Homo sapiens: one gene and its partners. The protein of the gene in region 2 purifies or fractionates together with the protein of the main gene of each other region. This does not show direct contact. Each region holds a gene or a part of one and is shown on either strand. Other genes may lie near its edges.

Region 1 (3,500 bases), on a different chromosome or scaffold from region 2:
AAAGTCATTAACACCCATAGGAAATCATAATCTTGAAATACAAAAAAAGCAGAATTGTAAGAGAAGCACTCCCTGACAATATGAGAAAGCAATGGCTGCAAATAATTAGATTACCAGTTGAAACACATTTGAAATTACTGTCCATTCTCACATAATTTTTTTTTTTTTTTTTTTTTGAGACAGAGTCCCACTCTGTTGCCCAGGCTGGAGTGCAGTGGCGCAATCTCAGCTCACTGCAACCTCCGACTTCTGGGTTCAAGCGATTCTCTTGCCTCAGCCTCCTGAGCTGCTTGACTTACAGGCACCTGCCACCAAGCCTGGCTAATTTTTTTGTATTTTTAGTAGAGACTGGGTTTTACCATGTTGGCCAGGCTGGTCTCAAATTCCTGACCTCAGGTGATCCACCCGCCACAGCCTCCCAAAGTGGTGGGATTACAGACGTGAGCCACTGTGCCTGGCCCATTCTTACATAATTTTAAACATTCATCCACAGCCCAGATACATATCTTTTGAGGCCATAATTTAAAAAGCACTAATGGCAGTCATGTTTACCTCTGATTGTTTCTGATTAAGTAGTCCATGTAATTACATTTTATTATAAGTACTTTTTCTCTTATGAGTGAACACTAATTTTTAAAATTTGTTTCTAGATTTTAAACATTAGTCTAATAAACATAAAATTAGTTTCCTGAAGCATTAAAGCATTAACAGAATTTTAAAGATGAGGTAGAACCCTAAAAGGGGTTTTAAGAACATATGGCACAAACAAATCGTTATTTTCTCTAGGATACCAAGTTTCCTCCTTCCATTAGAGAGGAATACTTTCCTTAAGCAGCATGACAGGATGTCATACCTGTGTGAAGGATAGAGAACTGCAGTCTCCAGGTCTGTCACTGTTTCCTCCTTCGGGCACTAGGAATTTCAAACAAGAACTGCTTTTAAAGTTATAAATCACTACCCAAATTCAAATACTAATGAATCCAATTCAAAGTGAGTTAAAATAAGCAATTCCTTATCCAATTACATTATGCAGAATAGAATTTGACATTTGCTTAGAAAAAATCATACTTAAAGCTTATAGAACATTTTCCCCCTTATTTTCATAGCCCTTATAGTGAAAGGTTCAGTCCTGGTAATAAACGGATATAAGAAGCCTACTATTGCAGGAAGGAATAAACAAAAAAACCTCAAGGAAATAAGAAGCCCATGTCACCAATTGAGGCTTTAAACCAAGGTTTTCAAGAATTGGGGGAAAGGAATATAAACAAGTTGTAATGAGTTAGCAAATTTCTAGAGTAAAGAGATATATGCAGTCAAGAGCCTGCACTGCATGTAACAGATTGTGGCTTTGGCAGCAATTCTGGACCTCAGTTTCCTCATCTATAAAATGAAGCTAATACAGTTGCCCTCCCCAGATCATTGTGAAGGATTGCTGAGATGATAAAATATGTGAAGACACTTTGTAACACAAAGCACCAATACACTGACTATTACCTTAGTTCTTATAGTTCTTATAAGTGTTTTTCAAAGAAAATAAAGGTATTTTTTCTAGCAAGACCTAATCATTTTCAACACTGCCACCTTCACCCTCCCAACCTTTTATAAAGTGATTTTCCCTCTTACTGCTTATGTTAAAAAATTAAGCATTTAGACAAAGGAGCATTAAACATTATTATGTAAATTAAGTAGAAATAATTTGCGAAGGTGACTGGAACATATTCTTCAGTCCATCTGTTTTGAAAGACTGATTGTTACTTGAGATGGCAACTTCTATGTTTAACACAGCATACACCATTTCCTCTGCTCTCTATTTAATTACTGGCAAATTTAGCATCTGCCCTTAATGGATTCACTGGTAACTACATTCGGATGTTATTAATATTTAATAAAGCTTTACTTTTTTTACATAATTACATAATTTAAGAGCTCTTCAGTCGTAGCGCCTTTTACTTCATTAACTAAGTTTACTACCCACCTACGCCCCCCTGCCCCATAAAAAGAAATAGATCTTGAGTTTTGTAGGCAAAGAATACTACAATATTCCAAAAATGTCTCTAATTAACTGTAATTATACATACTTTGAGAAAATAACCTATCTTTGTTCTTTATTATCTCAAATTATGCCTTTGTCTTCTGCAAATTAAGCAGACCACAGAGACCAGTTCTTGAAAAACAAGATTCCTTCTCCATGTTAAGACTACTTAAATAATAATATTTCTTCTTGATGTTCATGTATGTATATGCATTTGACACTACTTGTATCAAGGAAATTTTCCTTGAACTGCCTATATTCTGCCTTTCCTTGCACTGCCTATATTCCCTCAAATTTTTTTTTTTTTTTGAGACAGGGTCTCCCTCTGTCACCCAGACTGGAATGCAGTAGCATTCCAGTCACTGCTCACTGTAACCTCGACCTCCCAGGCTCAAGTGATCCTCCTGTCTCAGACCCCGCAAGTAGCTGGGACTACAGGCACATGCCACAATACACAGCTGATTTTTGTATTTTTTGTAGAGATGGGGTTTTGCCATCTTTCCCAGGCTGTTCTCCAACTCCTGGGCTAAACCAATCCACCCACTTTGGCCTCCCAAAGTGCTGGGATTATAGGCGTGGGCCACCTTGCCTGGGCCCCTCTTTCTATTTTGATTACTTAAATTGGAGAGGGATGTTAGGTGGGAGAGACACAGAGAACAAAGAAGAAACAAATAGAAGATTCAGAAAGGATTGCTGTGCTACTTAAGGATTTCTCTATTCTGGCTAAACCAGTATTGCCAAAGTCTCAAGCAGATCACAAGCTTATTTCTAACAGGTCTTTTCAGAGTAAGTGACAGAGGGAATCAACATGGGTCAAGAAGCAGTTAATGAATGGCAAGTAGCCAGGCAGGTTACCACAAAGCAGGTTTGCAGACTCATGGGATGAAATATAGGCACTTTGAGTCTGGCAAAGACTAAAACACAAGAATGATAAGACTGCCTAGGGCCAACCAGATTTATGCAATGGTAGTTTCTTCTGGAGTTTACTCAGTGTTCTGAATACTTCCTTCTGGCTCCCTCCTTAGCCTTGATTCAAAGAAGTGGTTGGAGAAGTTCATTGCCTACACATTTTGGTATGTAAACTATAAAATATAAACAGTTACCTATTGATCTTTCTCATTGTTACAGGAGATAAATCTAGGAAATTAAGAACAAGTTGGCAACCTTTCCTCCTTAGGAGCAAGCAAGTAAAAACTAATGTTAAGAAAGACTTGCTCAAACCTGTACACTCTGGTATAGTTCTCCAAGTAAAAAGCATGGACATCCCTGCCTCCTCCCAGAGTTACTGGTCTGCGTATCAGAGATTCTACTCATCTTCAAGGCCCTGTTCTAAGTCACCTCTTCCTGGAAGCTTTCCTCGATAAATCACACAGAAAATAAGTTTTCTAATCAGGGACCTGCACTTCTACAGAGGTAGGTCATTCATACCCAAGTCTACATAGCCTACTCTCTATGGAAAACTAGTTAT
Region 2 (3,500 bases):
AAAGTGTGTGCCACATGGCAGGAAAGCTGTCAGGCCTTGTCTCCACCTGCTGCCAGCCCAGAGTCAAGGGCAATTTTCTTCTGCCTTAAGTGATAACAGACTGACAGTTTTCACATGTGGGTCTCAAGAGTGTCCTAACAGCCACAAAATCCATTTAACAAAAGATGTGAAGCCGAGGCCCCACCTGCATGGCCTTCAGCCCACTCCCCGCCTGCTAGTCTCTCCCTCACCCACCCCACACCCACAGCTGCAATCACTCCTAACCCCTGGCAGCTGCCTGGAAACCCAAGCATCTCCTACATCATGAGAACACACACATGCACATGTGCAGTGACACAGGGGCAGGCACACTCACAGGCCCCAGCCACCGTCAGGGAGCTGCACTGACCGCAGGTACCGCACAATCTCTTCTCTGTATCCGGCTGGCAGAGGGATGCGTGCCACGTGGCAAGTGATCAGGAGGCCTGTGTGGCAGGAGAGATGTTCCTCACTGGGGACAGGTGGTCATGACTGCTAAGACCAGGCCCCTTTCCTCCTGAGCACCTCACTCCAACAGGGAGCTACCTCCTTCTCATAAAAACACCCCCTGGAAAGGCCATTCCTCCCAGGCCCCCATGGGGAACTTTGGGAACAGGGCCAGAAGGAACGTCAGCCACAGCACAGGCGATGCTCCCTGCCTAGGGCCTGTAGAGCCCACTCAGCCACGCCTGGCTCCCATGACCACCAGGGTCTGAGAAACACCAGACACTGCACAGCACCTCAGGAAGGTCTCCCCCAAGTGCCCTGAAGGTCCAAAAGGAACCAGCATTTTAGATCAGTGGGCCTTCCATGAGGGGAGACTGTTGGTCTTGCTTTAACATCTGCTGGGAAGAAAAATACAAAATTGGTCACCCTTGCATGTGGTAATACCTACTTATTTATTTATATTTTTCTGTTTCAAAATTTTTTTACAAGCATATGCCGCTTTGCAAATGTCAGGGGGGAGGCAGAGACAATAAATATTATCCACTAAGAACCTTCCGTCCCCAGCCTGGTCCTCTCAGGCATGGTGCTCACAGGCCACCCTCCACCTTCACTCCCCATGCTTGGTTCCATCAGCCATGTGCCCCCAGAGCCTGGCACGGGACAGGTCTCAGGGCAGACCCCAGCCACATGTGCCATGGAATGAATACCTGACTCTGGCTTAGAGCATCAGAAGCCCTAGTGTTCAAACCATCCAGACATGCCCTGTGTGGGCGGCAAGCCACCCAGGCGCCAAGGCAAGAGACCGAGGACACGAGCTGTTCCAGTATAATAAAATATAAAACAAGAATAGTTATACCAGATATAGATCTTAGAGATATATGAATATCATTAATCATTAGTTTGTAGTAATTACTCTTTATCCCAATATTATAATAATCCTCGCTCTACAATCATAACCTAGGAAAAACCAGGCCATACAGAGATAGGAGCTGAGGGGACATAGTGAGGTGTGACCAGAAGACAGGAGTGCGAGCCTTCTGTTATGCCCGGACGGGGCCAGCAAAAGGGCTCCTTGGTCTAGTGGTAACGCCAGCGTCTGGGAAGACGCCCGTTGCCGAGCGGACGGTGGTCTAGCGGTAGCGAAAAGTGTCAAGGAACAACACCCGCTACTTAGCAGACCGGGAAAGGGAGGCTCCCTTTCCCCGGGGGAATTTAGAGAAGACTCTGCTCCTCCACCTCTTGTGGAGGGCCTCACATTAGTCAGACCTGCCCGCAGTTATCCGGAGGCCTGTCTCCCTGTGATGCTGTGCTTCAGTGGTCACGCTCCTAGTCCGCCTTCATGTTCCATCCTGTACACCTGGCTCTGCCTTCTAGATAGCAGTAGTCAATTAGTGAAAGTACTAAAAGTCTCTGATATGCAGAAATAATGGCATAAGTTGTCTTTCTCTGTGTCTCCTCTCTCTGCCTCGGCTGCCAGGCAGGGAAGGGCCCCCTGTCCAGTGGACACGTGACCCACGTGACCTTACCTATCACTGGAGATGACTCACACTCTTTACCCTGCCCCTTTTGCTTTGTATCCAATAAATAACAGCACAGCCAGACATTCGGGGCCACTACTGGTCTCCGTGCATTGGTGGCAGTGGTCCCCCGGGCCCAGCTGTCTTTTATCTCTTTGTCTTGCGTCTTTATTTCTACACTCTCTCATCGCCGCACACAGGGAGAGACCCACCGACCCTGTGGGGCTGGTCCCTACACCCTGGAAGAAGGGCAGATGAACTCAGAGACAGCGCACAGGGTCACATAAAATGAGCCATCCCAAAACAAGCCCGTCTCTTTCCTAACAGTTATAATGTTGTTAGGACGGGGAAATGTGCAGAGAGGAGCAGAGCCAGCATCTTCCTGATTTTACAGGCAAGGAAACTGAGGCTCAGCCAGTAAATGGTGGGGCTAGGAGGTCAGACCCGATTCAGTGTTCACCAGAGTGCTGCCCAATGCCGCACAGGCCACAGTCAATGGGAGCTGTCTACATAGCATCATGGACCAAGAGCATTTTCCAAAGTCCAAAAAGAGGGAAGAAAAGCTCCAACTCAGCCAGGTGCAGTGGCTCACGCCTGTAATCCCAGCACTTTGGGAGGCTGGGGGTGGGGGGTGGGGGATCACGAGGTCAGGAGTTCGAGACCAGCCTGACCAACAAGGTGAAAACCTGTCTCTACCAAAAATACAAAAATTAGCCAGGCATGGTGGCACATGGCTGTAATCCCAGCTACTCGAGAGGCTGTGGGTGGCAAGCCACCTTGGTGCCAAGGCAAGAGACCGAGGGCACGAGCTGTTCCAGTATAATAAAATATATAAAACAACAAGAGTTATACTAGATCTAGATCATACATATGATTATATATGAATATCATTAATCATTAGTTTGTAGCAATTACTCTTTATTCCAATATTATAATAATCCTCGCTCTACAATCATAACCTAGGAAAAACCAGGCCATACAGAGATAGGAGCTGAAGAGACATAGTGAGAAGTGACCAGAAGACAAGAGTGAGAGCCTTCTGTTAAGCCCGGACAAGGCCACTAGAGGGCTCCTTGGTCTAGCGGTAACGCCAGCATCTGGGAAGAGGCCCGTTGCCAAGCGGACCCAACCGTGGTCTAGCGGTAGCGTCAGTGTCAAGGAAAAACACCCGCTACTTAGCATACCGGGAAAGGGAATCTCCCTTTCCCCGGGGGAGTTTAGAGAAGACTCTACTCCTCCACCTCTTGTGGACGGCCTGACATCAGTCAGGCCCACCCGCAGTTATCCGGAGGCCTAACCATCTCCCTGTGATGCTGTGCTTCAGTGGTCACGCTCCTAGTCCACTTTCATGTTCCACCCTGTACACCTGGCTCTGCCTTTTAGATAACAGTAGCAAAATTAGTGAAAGTACTAAAAGTCTCTGATATGCAGAAATAATGGCATAAGCTGTCTCTCTCTCTCTCTCTCCCACTCTCTGCCTCGGCTGCCAGGCAGGGAAGAGCCCACTGTCCAGTGGAC
Region 3 (3,223 bases), on a different chromosome or scaffold from region 2:
AAAACAAGCAAATGTCAAATAAACACAGCATATTGCTACACCCTGTTAAGTCTACCCTGCTGTATCTTAAGGCGAAGCAAGTATGCCATATACCAACCCCAAGGACACCAGAAGCCCCTGGGTGGGAAACGGCTACAGCAGGCCGGGTGCCTGTGGCTGAGTTAACAACCATACCTGGTTCTTGCGCCTGAGCACAACTACTGTATTTTGGTTTCTAAATACAAAATTCTCAATAAAAAAGCAATAAAGGAAACAACAGGTTTCAGATGATATACTTTTATAATGTAGATTCTTTTTTTTACCTTTTTCAGAATGTCATCGACAAGTTTCAAAAATATCTCGTCCACATTGAAGTTATCCTTGGCACTTGCTTCACAGAACCGCATCCCAGTGATCTGCTGTGCAAACTGAGAAGAAACACACACCTATTTCCTCTGTGTGGGGCCTCACAGACCAGCGTGCGAGCATGAGGTCTCTGGGCTCAGCTTCAAGGGAAGGGCTGGGATTAAGGGGTAGAAAGTCCCACTGACGCTCAAAGATAAAGTTCACAAGTGTAGCAAATTCTTACATTATAAGCAACTAGCAAAACAAAAGACAATAAAAATCCTGAAGGTGATGCCGGGACCTTCCAGTCAAATCAGTTGCCTAAGTTTCTAAAAGTGTAACATATCTGACATTTAAATGTGAATAGCATCGTTTCTCCATGATTCAATCCTTAGCAAAAACCAAGGAAGTTTAAAGTACGTTAAAGTAAATTATAAAAGCAACTTTATGGCTTAAAATATGTTTCTCTGTATAAAATGTCAGGTTAGATAATAATGTTGTATACACTGATGTGTTTTTTTCTCCCTCCATTTCAGAATGAATTTAAAGGAGCACGAAGTCAAAAAAGTGCAAACAAATTAGGAGGATGTGACTGAGTTATCACTGTATTGATAATTTCTTTGTAATTTTTAAAATAAGTAATTTATTAAAAGAAACAGTACCTCAAGCGCTAAGCACAGTGTGTGGCAACCGTGCCTCCCACGCCCTCTCACCTTTTCCCCCTGCTGCCTGGTGATTTCTCTGTCCGTTTCACAGTCCAACTTATTTCCAACTAAGAGAAGCTCTGCATCTTCTGAAGCATACTGTGGAATTTTAAAAGAAGCCACATTTCAAAGATGGGCATCGCCATATACTGACAGCAGAAATATAAACCGATACAGTATTTTTCGCTAATTTACATTTGTCCATTCACTTCCACTGTCTTTGAGGTTCTACCAGTTCCCAGGCAGGACTGGGCAGCAGTGCAAGGCAGGGCTCACTGTGTCTTAGAAAGAACTAGGGCACAGGCATTAAGAACCACAATGCTCTTGGCTGTTGACCCAACAATTCCCAAGACCTCTTCCTAAGGAAATGATTCAACATACAGGCAAAGCTCTACACTCAAAATGGTTATCAACTGAAAAACCTACAAGTCAAACAAAATGGCTCAAGAATCAAGTTATTTTAAAAACACAGGCATTTAAAAAAACACACGCTTCAGAAGAACAGAGAATGACACAGGAAGGACTCCATGACAGAATATTCACAAAATAAGCAAGACGTAAAGCTAAATACAGTGAAGCCAATTTGGTTTTTCAGGATGCCAGAGGTACAGATTTCTTCTTTACTTTTGTGCTTTTCTTCATTTTCCAAATTTCTATAATGAAGGTATCATTAATTTTATAACCAGGAAAAAAGTTAAGCTACATTTCTAAGTTTAAAAATACATATAGGTACAATGAGATTTCTGTCTTTAAAAATGAGGTTAAAATCTCTTGAGCAACTAACTTGTCGTTCTAAAAAGTTACTTGAAACAGACTGCAACAAAAGGAACCTGAATGGTGTGGCCGTGGGCCAGTTACGCAGCCAGGTGAGGAGTGCCGGCCCCTTATCAGGGAGGTGTGGGTAACAGTGACAGCACCCACCGCAGGGCTGGGGCAATGGGCCCCGCACTCAGGAAATGATGCTCTCACTCAAGTAAGGTGAAAAGCAGCAGTTGATGACAAAAGGAAGACAGCATCAGACCTCAAGACCTGGGTGGGCACAGACTCACAAACTCAAGTACCAAATGGGGTAGGATTTAGGCCATTTCTTTTGGTTTTGTATTCATCCTATTAGTTCTAAAAGTTTTAGACTATGAGGACTGTCCACTTCTAATTTCCACAGGATTGCACTCTGTGACTTCCGTATCAGGGAACATCAGTATCCACTGATGTGCCAATGGAGGGCCTGGTATGACTGATGCCCAGTGCAGAGCAGGCTGGGGCAGGGGCCCCGCCTCAGGTCTGATCCAACCTTGCAACCCTGATCCTAACAACTTTTTTTTTTAATGAAAAAAAAAAAAAAAAAAAAGAGAGAGAGAGAGATGGAGTCCCACTATGTTGCCCAGGCTGGTCTCGACCTCCTGGGTTCAAGTGATCCTCTTGCTTTGGCCTTCCAAAGTGCTGGGATTACAGGTGTGAGTCACCATGCCTGGCCACCAATCCTAACACATTTTAAAGAGGCATACATCATCAATGACATGCTTGGTAAAGCTGGCAAACATTCTCCAATGTTATCTAGCAGACAGGTTTAAATGCAATGTGTAGATAAAATCCAATTTATATTGCATATGCTTGTTATGCAAAGGAACTAAACATGAAACTACTGCACGAGGGGAAGAAAACTCAAAATGTGGTCAATGGTATATCATCACATCCCACTCCCAACTGCTCTGCCTTCTAAATGTGTATTTGGGAACATGTTTCTTAGCGGAGAACCCACGGTTCACATTAACCACAGGGACACAGCCTATCTGTATGATTCCATCACGAGCCAAAGGAGAACTCGAGCTCCTCTTGCTCAAAATGAGGAGCTAAAGGGCATCTATAATTGCGAGGACAGATGTCCAGTGGGTGACGGAGGCGCGTGGGACATCCGCAGGCACCGTGGAGAAGGCCATCTCCTCAAGGTTGTCACTCAGTGGACGTGCATGAGATGAGTGTCCAGGTGACCTTTCCGCAGAAATGAAATGTCTTATATCTATTCCATGAAAGCAGCTGGATGTAGTGGAATGAGCATGTTTGGCCTCTGTAGTTGAGACAGTCCAGGATACCAGACGAAAAATCCTGATTCTGGATAAATTTAATTCTTCTTTGCCTCATCCACAATACAGGACTACATCCCTATCCCGAAGGCTATATATGGGCTAAATGATGTT

The links. Proteins that work in one complex are often made in the same cells at the same time.
Region 1: the proteins of LSS (region 2) and HMGCS1 purify together in Homo sapiens (affinity purification with mass spectrometry; one large-scale study listed by BioGRID and IntAct). This does not show direct contact.
Region 3: the proteins of LSS (region 2) and RAB12 purify together in Homo sapiens (affinity purification with mass spectrometry; one large-scale study listed by BioGRID and IntAct). This does not show direct contact.

What each region holds. Positions count from the first base shown.
Region 1 is NC_000005.10:43,306,913-43,310,412, forward strand, and holds part of HMGCS1 (hydroxymethylglutaryl-CoA synthase, cytoplasmic), read right to left. Parts: intron 933-3,500; exon of another isoform or gene 913-932; 5' UTR 854-912; intron 1-853. UniProt on the Homo sapiens protein: Catalyzes the condensation of acetyl-CoA with acetoacetyl-CoA to form HMG-CoA, which is converted by HMG-CoA reductase (HMGCR) into mevalonate, a precursor for cholesterol synthesis.
Region 2 is NC_000021.9:46,222,275-46,225,774, forward strand, and holds part of LSS (lanosterol synthase), read right to left. Parts: intron 465-3,500; coding exon 356-464; intron 1-355. UniProt on the Homo sapiens protein: Key enzyme in the cholesterol biosynthesis pathway. Catalyzes the cyclization of (S)-2,3 oxidosqualene to lanosterol, a reaction that forms the sterol nucleus.
Region 3 is NC_000018.10:8,633,437-8,636,659, reverse strand, and holds part of RAB12 (ras-related protein Rab-12), read right to left. Parts: intron 1,128-3,223; coding exon 1,038-1,127; intron 999-1,037; exon of another isoform or gene 861-998; intron 472-860; exon of another isoform or gene 408-471; coding exon 303-407; intron 1-302. UniProt on the Homo sapiens protein: The small GTPases Rab are key regulators of intracellular membrane trafficking, from the formation of transport vesicles to their fusion with membranes.